Homo sapiens: one gene and its partners. The protein of the gene in region 2 purifies or fractionates together with the protein of the main gene of each other region. This does not show direct contact. Each region holds a gene or a part of one and is shown on either strand. Other genes may lie near its edges. The genes, in order: ALDH9A1, USP46 and CNN2.

The links.
Region 1: the proteins of USP46 (region 2) and ALDH9A1 purify together in Homo sapiens (affinity purification with mass spectrometry; one large-scale study listed by BioGRID and IntAct). This does not show direct contact.
Region 3: the proteins of USP46 (region 2) and CNN2 purify together in Homo sapiens (co-immunoprecipitation; one large-scale study listed by IntAct). This does not show direct contact.

What each region holds. Positions count from the first base shown.
Region 1 is NC_000001.11:165,696,328-165,700,079, reverse strand, and holds the start of ALDH9A1 (4-trimethylaminobutyraldehyde dehydrogenase isoform 1 precursor), read left to right. Parts: upstream 1-1,517; 5' UTR 1,518-1,521; coding exon 1,522-1,702; exon of another isoform or gene 1,703-1,830; intron 1,831-3,752. UniProt on the Homo sapiens protein: Converts gamma-trimethylaminobutyraldehyde into gamma-butyrobetaine with high efficiency (in vitro). Can catalyze the irreversible oxidation of a broad range of aldehydes to the corresponding acids in an NAD-dependent reaction, but with low efficiency.
Region 2 is NC_000004.12:52,603,682-52,607,333, forward strand, and holds part of USP46 (ubiquitin carboxyl-terminal hydrolase 46), read right to left. Parts: intron 904-3,652; coding exon 820-903; intron 1-819. UniProt on the Homo sapiens protein: Deubiquitinating enzyme that plays a role in behavior, possibly by regulating GABA action. May act by mediating the deubiquitination of GAD1/GAD67.
Region 3 is NC_000019.10:1,036,475-1,039,584, forward strand, and holds the end of CNN2 (calponin-2), read left to right. Parts: coding exon 1-88; intron 89-1,150; coding exon 1,151-1,426; 3' UTR 1,427-2,591; downstream 2,592-3,110. UniProt on the Homo sapiens protein: Thin filament-associated protein that is implicated in the regulation and modulation of smooth muscle contraction. It is capable of binding to actin, calmodulin and tropomyosin. The interaction of calponin with actin inhibits the actomyosin Mg-ATPase activity.

The DNA of each region.
Region 1 (3,752 bases), on a different chromosome or scaffold from region 2:
ACCAAGACCTACACATCTCAGTAGCACTGAAAAAGTGAACAAACTGGTATAGAGTGCCAGAAAACTTGATCAGAATACATTATATATACTCTAAACCTGAAAACCACACTCCCTAATATTGCGCTGGTGAGCTGGCAGGTAAAGGAAAAAACATTGAGAAAGACAGCAGCCCCCAGAAGAGAAACAATCCTAAAAGAAATGTCCAAATTGCCAATTACTTTCTGTTTGTCAAAGTCTCTACTGGAGGTGCATGGAAGTTTGGTGAGAAGAATGAACCTTTGTGCAAGATCCCTCAGCTGACAGACCTGTGAGTGCCTCTGGGTGGCTGCTTTGTCTTACAGAAGGCATTTTGTTTCCTGACACTTTTTCCTGTGGCCTTTGCTCTTCGTATTCTGTATGTTAGGCTTCTGTTTCTATCAATATTTGTCATTAATAGCATTTACATTGCTCCTTCAGAATTTATTTATTTTGAGACAGGGTCTCGCTCTGTTGCCCAGGCCTGAGTGCAGTGGCACGATTATAGCTCACTGCAAGCTTGGACCCCCGGGGCTCAGGGGATCCTCCCACCTTAGCCGCCCAAGTACCTGGGGCCACAGGCGTGTGCCACCACACCTGGATAATTTTTTTTTTTTCTGAGTTTCACTCTTGTCACCCAGACTGGAGTGCAATGGCATAGTCTCGGCTCACTGCAACCCGTCTCCCGGGTTCAAGCGATTTTCCCACCTCAGCCTCCCAAGTAGCTGGGATTACAGGCGCCCGCCACCACACCCAGCTAATTTTTGTATTTTTAGTAGAGACGGGGTTTTACCATTTTGGTCAGGCTGGTCTCGAACTCCTGACCTCAGGTGATCTGCCCGCCTTGGCCTCCCAAAGTGCTAGGATTACAGGCGTGAGCCACCGCGCCCGGCCCAATTTTTATTATTTTTATTTTATTTTTTTATAGACACGGGATCTCTCTCTGTTGCCCGCAAACTCCTGGGCTCAAGCGATCCTCCAGCCTTGGTGAGAGCCACAGCGCCCAGTCTCTCTTTAAGAATTTAAAAAGCAGTTTCAGATCACAATATCATCTATCTCGTTCACAGTCCCCTTGCTTTTTACTGTCACCCTTTAAAAAGCATTATACAATTACAGAAACGGTGGTTTAGCAGTGAAGTAACCACCAAAGACTCTTGGCACTCCAATCCTCTGCCTTCTTCAGGCGATAGGATTAAGAATGGGATCCTAGGATGCTTACATGCAATGATGAACCCGAAAACACTTGCAAAGTGCTACGCAAATATTGATCACGAAGAAGGAAGTCCTCTTCCCGCCTGGAGACTGTGTGGGGTATGGCGGGGTGGTGGGGAGAATGTGGTGTCTTGCTCCACCCTCCTGGCGAGGGGAGGGCCTGGCCTGGACCGCAGAGGAATCGAGTGACTGCCCCTAAAATCTCCTAGAACCGATCCCGCGGCCCCGCCCCTCCCGCGGCCCCGCCCCTCCCGCGGCCCGTCAGCCTCTGCCGCGGAGCTGCGTCCGCCACTCATGTTTCTCCGAGCAGGCCTGGCCGCGCTCTCCCCGCTTCTTCGCAGTCTTCGGCCCTCTCCTGTCGCCGCCATGAGCACTGGCACCTTCGTCGTGTCGCAGCCGCTCAATTACCGCGGCGGGGCCCGCGTGGAGCCGGCGGACGCCTCCGGTACCGAGAAAGCTTTCGAGCCAGCAACCGGTAACTGCAACGAGCCGGGGAGGCTGGGGCGCCCTGGGGCCGGATGCGCGGATTTCCCGGCCAGCCCCCGTTTCCTGTGTTCTGCAGCGTTGACTTGAGCACAAGACAGTGACAGTGGAGAGTCTAAGGTTGTGTGTGTAGGCAACTAGCGATTCTGGGGCAACGCGAGTGCCTCCGGGCAGGGATGGGTAGGGAGGAAAAGCAAAGCTGATGAGTTGCGTGGTAGGATCGTGAGTTGTTTTACCCGGGCCAGAACAGAGTTCGCAAAGTACTGGTGGGGGAAGTCGTGCCTCTGTTAACTTCCTTTTTTGTTTGTTTTGTTTGTTTGTTTGTTTTTTGTTTGTTTTGAGACAGGGTCTCACTCTGTCGCCCAGGCTGGAGTGCAGGGGCACCATCTCAGAGCTCACTGCGCCCTCTACCTTACGGGCTCAAGTGCTTCTCCCGCCTCAGCCTCCCTGGTAGCTGGGATTACAGGCTCCCACCACCATGTCCGGCTAATTTTTGTATTTTTAGTAGAGACGGGTTTTCAGCATGTTACTCAGGCTGGTCTCGAACTCCTGAGCTTAGGTGATCCTCCCGCCTCAGCCTCCCAAAGTGCTGGGATTACAGCCGTGAGCCACCAAGCCCAGCCAACTGTTCCCCCTTTTAAAACCAGGACTGATGTATTATTGTCTTCAAATGTGTGCATAGGAGAGGAATTCTAAAAGAACGGGGCGGGGTTGTGGGGAAGATAATCATTTGTGCTGGGAATGAAGGAACGCTCACAGATAGTTTCTAATGACTACGAATGAGGACTTTGTCTCCACATTCTAATATTAAAATATTTCTGCACATTAATCAGAATTGGGAAAGGAAAAAACCCCACCTTTATTCAGTACTTTCTTCCCCAGCTTTATTGAAGTATAATTAACAAATAAAAATTGTATATACTTAAGGTGTAAAACGTGTTGTAATGTATGTATACCTTGCAAAATGGTTACCACGGTCAATCTAATTATCCATTGCTTCTGCATAGTTAATGGCTTTTTTTGGATAGTGAAATATTTAAGATCTATTCTTTTAGCAAATTTCAAGTATATGATGCAGTATTGGTAACCATAGTCACCATGGTCTACGTGAGCTCTCCACAATTTATTCATCTTGCTGAAATAAAACTTTTTAATCCAGTGCTTAATGTGTGCTAAGCACTGTGCTAGGCACTGGATTTACTCTGGGAACTCTGAAGGTCACAGAGATAAGGAAGAAGGGGCTTTTTGTTTTGGTTTTGTGTTGTGTTTATTTTGCTGGGTTTTATGGAATATATGTGGGGAGAAAAATGTAAATATTTTGTGTAAAATGTAGCCAGAGCAATAAAACTGATTTGCAGGGGACTGGAGAATTTAGTATTTGACCATCCACACTAAACCACAGAGCAGTGACTTGGCAGAGCCAGAAGGCATTATCACATCTCTTCTTTATATAGGAGGAAACAGCTTCTCTACCCCGACTTAATCCTGATACAAAAGAAAGAAAAATTGCTCTTTGCTTTAATTGCCTACAGTGTGTGTGATCCTCAGCCACCGCCTTTACCAGCTGGCTATTCAAGTTTGTAACAGAAATTGCAGATTTGTGAAATCTCCCTGGAAAGAGTCCCAGGAGTTCTTGTGAAGAGGATTTGCTGAGTTGGCAAACTTAAAGAATTCTTGTTGGTAGAGGCAGTACAGTCCTTGGGCTATGGGCCTAGAAAAACTGATTGTTTCATAATTTGCACCAGAATAGGGAGAGGGAATAAAGGTGGAATAAGAAAAGGAAATCTGGGAATTTTTGAGAAAAAAAAAATGTTCCTTTAGGGTTGCCTTATCCTGATATTACTGCTTATTAACTATATTTATCAAGTATCAAGTAGTATGATATAACCTACATAGAATATAGACAAGGGATTTACAGTCAGAGTTTATAACCCAATAGACTGATTACTTTTGACTTTCATTTTACAAGACCCCTGAGATTCTGAGATAATGTTTAGGAGTGTTGCAAAACTTAATCAGAAGTTAATGTTAGTAAACTCAAC
Region 2 (3,652 bases):
CTTTTTCTTTTTTCTTTTTTTGATACAGAGTCTCACTCTGTCACCCAGGCTGGAGTGCAGTAGTACGATCTCAGCTCACTGTAACCTCTGCCTCCTGGGCTTAAGTGATTCTCCTGCCTCAGCCTCCCGAGTAGGTGGGATCATAGGCACCTGGCACCATGCCCAGCTAATTTTTGTGTTTTTAGTAGAGACGGGGTTTCACCATGTTGGCCAGGCTGGTCTCAAACTCCTGACCTCAAATGATCGGCCTGTCTTGGCCTCCCAAAATGCTGGGATTATAGGTGTGAGCCACTGTGCCCAGCCTCTAATCACCTATTCTTATAACTGATGTGTTAATAATTTCCTCATGAGTCCTTATGAAATGATATATATTTTTTAAACCTCTGTCTCTAAATAAGAGGTCCTAATGTTTAAGCAATACAAACAAAAATAATATTGGGTGTCTACTATGTGTTATATACTCTGCTAAGTACTTTATATAATTTACCTTTAATCTCAAGAGAATAGTGATTATATTTAATCATTACTTGTTTATCTAGCATAATATCTGGCACATGGCAGGGCTCAACAAATATTTGCTGAATGACTGAATGAATAAACAAATAAGTAAACAATCGGACAGACAACTCTCCAAGTTGTTCTCTCCAAGGTCAGCGTTCTTATCCCAGTTTCACTGGTGAGGAGGATAACTGACTTCCCCAAGGCTCCATGGCTACAAGCCCAGGTAGCTGAGATTGATTCAAAGCCAACCCTGCTGGGCCCCACAGTCGGGATCCTTCTCACCACACAAAGATAACCCTGAGCTAAATCTTTACCTACCTTTTCTGGGCTTCTTGTTTGCTGCAGCATGTTTCACAATAATATTTTTGTTCACTACACAGTGTTTCTGTGTTGCTGAAGTCTCTGTAGAGGAAAATATTTCCATCTTTAAAAAATGTCCAAATCTACTTGGTATACTATGTTTTAAATCCCTCAATTAACCTGTAGGGTAATTTTTAAGTAAAAATGGAAGAAGAAGTAATCAGAAAAAAATCCTACTTAAGACTAGGATGGTAGAGAAACTACAGGATGAAAAACAAAAATAAGCTAAGACTGGGTGCCATTACGGTGGTAGACATGCTCTTTTCATCGAATCATGAATTTACCATGAGAGATTCAAATATAGTTTTATTTAATGGGACACAGGCAGATATAAATTAGGGTTTCCAACTGGATTCAGAAAAAAAACTCATGATTTAATGGAGAATACCTATAAGCTAGAAATTAAAATCGTAATAGAAAAATACTGTTGAGTAAAAGTTCACCGTAAACACTAAAACTTAGATCCAGAAAGTAAATCACATAACATGCAAGGTGACATTATTGTGTAGTTAATGAAAAATAGTATTTCTCTGGTAGTCCATATTTTCAAAGAGCATGAAAGTAAAGATAATGAAATTTAAACCACATACAAAACTGCCCTCTTAGTGAACTAAAGAAATCCTGAATTAATCAGATGACCACCTCCTACCAACCCCTGCTCCCCACTGCTCCCCCGCCGGAGGAGATGAACTTTTGCCTGCCTCCTTTGGAGAACAAAAGCCATTGTGTTTGTCATATGTGTATCTGCCTTATCATGAGGTTCTACTCTGCTACTTACGGTTTTTATTTTTTAAATGTCATGGTTTTTCATTCTTTTCCAGCCATCAAGATTCTACTTAACATTTCTGTGGTACTGCTTCAAAGGCTGAAAAGAACATCTGGACTAATACCCTATAGTTTTGAAAAATTCTGGGGCATTTCCTTGTTCAGTGTCCTAGTACCATAATGACCAGATTTTATTAAACAGAAAATGTTATTTAAAATGTGTTAAATGATTCTACCACTTACACAGAACACATCAAAAGAAAACACAGATTCTTTCATTCATTAAGTCCCCAAATGTTTCCTGCCAGTCCTCTGGGCTAGGTTCTGGGGATCCACAGAGAATAACTGCCTTCATACGGCTCACACTTTAACAGAGATGTGTGCAAATGAACCACTGACAACATGAAATGATCAGTGCAGCTTCAACAGAAAGCATTACATGATTCCCCTGCTGAAATCCTCCAGCAGTTTCCAGTGCACTTATCCACCCTGCCTCCTTCTCTCTGCTCCAGCCACACTGGCCCTGGGAAATCCTCTTCTCACCTTAGGGTGATTGCAGGTGCTATTTTCTCAGCACTGAGAGCTTCCTCCCAGAGGCTTCCATGGCTGGCTAACCCGGTTGTTCAGCACTCAGCCTAAACATCCCCTCTTTGGAGAAAACTTCTCTGGCCACTTTGTCCAAGCCTATCCAGCCCCTATCACATTGCCGTCTTATTTCTTCCCAGCATCTGAAACCATTCCTCTGTTCATTTGATTACTTGCCTCCCCTCTATGTGGGCAGTGCACTTGTCATTCCTATATCCCCAGCATGACACACAATGGAACACATTAATATTTGTTGGTTGAATGAATGAACCAACCAAGACAGAAGCAGGTGTAAAGTCCAGGAGAAAGCACAGAGAAAGAGGGAAAGTGTGCCAGGTGAACAAGTGAATAAGGGTCAATGACTCCTGAGAGAGAACACTGCAGTGCAGAGGCCTGGAGGTAGGGAACAGCAGCGGTGACGTATTAGTCTGTTCTCATGCTGCTAATAAAGACATACCTGAGACTGGGTAATTTATAAAGAAAAAGAGGTTTAATGAACTCACAGTTTCACATAGCTGGGGAGGCCTCACAATCATGGCAGAAGGCAAAGGAGGAGCAAAGTCATGTCTTACATGGCAGCAGACAAGAGACAGCAGGTGCAGGGGAACTCCCATTTATAAAACCATCAGATCTTGTGAGACTCATTCACTACCACGAGAATAGTATGGGAAAAACTGCTCCCATGATTCAATTATCTCCGCCTGGCCCCACCTTTAACACGTGGGAATTATTACAATCCAATGAGATTTGGGTGCAGACACAGCCAAACCATATCAGGCAGCAAGTCACATAGCCTGGACTATGCTACCAAGAAGCCAGCATGAACCCTAACCAACAGTCTCAACAAAGAAACGACATAATCAGGTAGTGCTTTTTAGAAATTCCACTTTTGACAGCATGGTGGAGGGGGCATTGGAGAGGGATGAAAGGCAAGAAAGCCATTAGAATGCAAATGTACTAAACTTTCAGATTTCAAGTACATGGTGCATAAAACAAACTCATACTTAGCTGAATGAATACTTCAATTGAGTAAGTGCTGTGGAATCTTGTTTTGGCTGCATGGGATTGACTGGAGTGGAACGGGGAGCCAGAGGCAGGGAGATGAGTGTGGGTGTGATGGAGCTTCATATCCTCCCAATGTCTACTGCAGAGAAGCTGTACTACCAAGCTAAAGGGTCACAATAGCCAAAGAAAGGCCAGCAACAAATAAGGAATCATTCATTCCTACTCATTCTTATTTTCCCCAAAAACTTATTTGATTTGTAGACCCAGACAGGTGGAAATATAGCAGAAGTTAATACCTAATGTAAAGACCCATTTTACAAAGAAGCTTGCTGACAGAGTAATGCTCTTAGGGCATCCATGAGTTGAGAATTAGAAAATGAAGGTAAGTTAGGAGAAGGCGAGGACCCCAGCAGTAAATGCTGAGGCAGAGCAGCTG
Region 3 (3,110 bases), on a different chromosome or scaffold from region 2:
TCTCTATGACCCCAAGAACCATATCCTGCCCCCCATGGACCACTCGACCATCAGCCTCCAGATGGGCACGAACAAGTGTGCCAGCCAGGTGGGGCTCGCCCGGGTGCCCCCGACTCCTCTCCCTGCCCCTCTACACCCTGTGGTCTCGGCCCCTCCCTGGGGCCACCTCCAGCTTCTCTCCCCACTCTCAGTCTCAGCCCCTTCCCTAGACCACCTCCGGCTTCCCTCCCCGCTCTCTGTCTCCGCCTTGGATTTCAGCCTCTGTCATTTCCACCTGGCTGTGGGTCTCTAGGGAAGTTACTACCTCACCCTGTGTCATTTTCCCTTAAGGACTGCCCAAAGGTCCACCCAATTCTTTTTTTTTAATCTTTATTTATTTTATTTATGTATTTATTTTGAGATAGGATCTCACTCTGTTGTCCAGGCTGGAGTGCAGTGGCACGATCTCGGCTCACTGCAACCTCTGCCTCCCGGGTTCAAGAGATTCTCCTTCCTGCCTCAGCCTCCCGAGTAGCTGGGACTACAGGTGCATGCTGCCACACCCGGCCAATTTTTGTATTTTTAGTAGACATGGGGTTTCACCATGTTGCCCAGGCTGGTCTCGAACTCCTGAGCTCAGGCAATCCACCCGCCTTGACCTCCCAAACTGCTAGGGTTACAGGTGTGAGCCACCGCACCCGGCCACACCCAGCTAATTTTTGTATTTTTAGTAGAGACGGGGTTTCACTGTGTTGGTCAGGCTAGTCTTGAACTCCTGACCTCAGGTGATCCTCCCACCTCAGCCTCCCGAGTAGCTGAGACTACAGGCGCCCGCCACCACGCCCGGCTAATTTTTGTATTTTTAGTAGATATGGGGTTTCACCGTGTTGGCCAGGCTGGTCTTGAACTTCTGACCTCAGGTGATCCTCCCACCTCAGCCTCCCGAGTAGCTGGGATTACAGGCATGTGCCACCACGCCCAGCTAATTTTGTATTTTTGGGAGAGACAGGGTTTCACCGTGTTGGCCAGGCTGGACTGGAACTCCTGACCTCAGGTGATCCTCCCACCTTGGCCTCCCAAAGTGCTGGGATTACAGGCGTGAGCCAGTGCACCCAGTGAAGGTCCCCTCTTCTCTCCACCATGACCTGCTCCACCCCTCCTTCCTCTCCAGGTGGGCATGACGGCTCCCGGGACCCGGCGGCACATCTATGATACCAAGCTGGGAACCGACAAGTGTGACAACTCCTCCATGTCCCTGCAGATGGGCTACACGCAGGGCGCCAACCAGAGCGGCCAGGTCTTCGGCCTGGGCCGGCAGATATATGACCCCAAGTACTGCCCGCAAGGCACAGTGGCCGATGGGGCTCCCTCGGGCACCGGCGACTGCCCGGACCCGGGGGAGGTCCCTGAATATCCCCCTTACTACCAGGAGGAGGCCGGCTACTGAGGCTCCCAGCACGCTCTCTCCCCACATCGTCTGCCCATCTGGGTTTTTGGGTTTTTCTGTGTTTTCATCTTTTTTTTTTTTTTCTTAACCCGTTCAGTGCTGCCAGTCAACCAAGGGTCTGTGAGTGTCAGCGTGGGATCAGGCAGCAGAGCTTTTTTCCCCTTTGCCTTGATCCTTCGCAAGGCTGAGCCACTGGGCTGTGGGGGAAGGGGTCAAGGCCATATCCCAATACGTGTAGGGCGAGGGTCCCTGCTGGCACATTCAGGCTGTGCTGGGAAGAAGAGACCTGGGCTTGGAAGGAACCGGTCCCCGACGGTTTCTGCTTGCCTCGCCTCTTCCCCCTTTTGTCAGCTGAGCAGTTTGTGGTTTCTATGCCCGCAAGTTTCAGGAAGTATTCACAAAAGAAAAATACATTTTTTCCCCCAGGGGTGGGGCAAGGACAGTGGAGAGAGTGCTAGGAAATGAGTCCCCTGGGAAAGGGGACCGGGCCGTGATGTTAAATATCTCCGGCTCCCAAGTGACTGGATTTGCCTAGGACCTTCAGACCAACAGACTTCAGACCCTCAGACCTGCCCCGGGGCCAGGTGGAGAAAGTGAGGGCCGTACAAGGAAGTGAAATTCTGAGTTGTTGGGGCTAAGCCTGACCCCCTCTCCATGCTCCCCGCCCCAACCCACTCTGGCCTCAGTAGATTTTTTTTTCAGTTGTGGTTGTTGCCCAGGCTGGAGTGCAGTGGCGCCATCTTGGCTCACTGCACCTCCACCTTCCGGGCTCAAGCGATTCTCCAGCCTCAGCCTCCTGAGTAGCTAGGACTGCAGGTGCTCCACCACGCCCGGCTAATTTTTGTATTTTTAGTAGAGATGGGGTTTCCCCATGTTGGCCAGGCTGGTCTCGAACTCCTGGCCTCAGGTGTGATCCGCCCGCCTCCGCCTCCCCAAGCGCTGAGATTACAGGTGTGAGCCACCGTGCCCAGCCCCTCAGTAGGTTTTAAGGAGCCCCCAGCCCTCCTCCCTTCTGGGCCCGACCAGCTTATACTGCTCCATCTTCCCCGGCCACATGCCCCGCCAAGTACTGCACAGGGACCCCCCACCCAGGGGACCTGCTCCGTGAGATAATGTGAAATACGACTGTGGACCAAACGCAATAAAACCTCTGTTTGTACGAAGAGAAGGTGGCCAAGAGAGTTGGCGTCGATGAGGGCGTGCTTTGCTTTGATGCTTTTGTGGGGAGAGAGGAGGTCTTGGGGGATGGGGGGATCAAGGGGAAAATGTCCACCTCACCATTGGGAGGAGGAGCAAAAGCTGAAGCCACAGGTGAGTCTGGGTGGAATGAATGATTTGAAGGGCCGGGACTTGGGGTAGAGGGAGAGGCTGGGCTTCCTGGCCATTTGGAGAAGAGGCAGTTCCCTCAAATGCCCCCCATGCGCTTTGGCTGCACTCTACCTTACAGCGCAAGTCTCGTGGCCTCAGCCTGGATGTCTCCCCGTTGGCGAACTCCTATTTATCCTCAAAGCCCCAACGGCAATGCCACCTCCTGCCGCGGGAGCCGTCCCCACGCCTCTCACTCTCCCCAGCGCCTTCAAAGCTGTGGACCCACACGCTCCCATTTCAGCTTCACCTCCAGCCTGAAGAGTTTATTTCAACTCTTCTTCCAGAGTGGGAAACGGGTTTTCCTCAAAATCAGGGT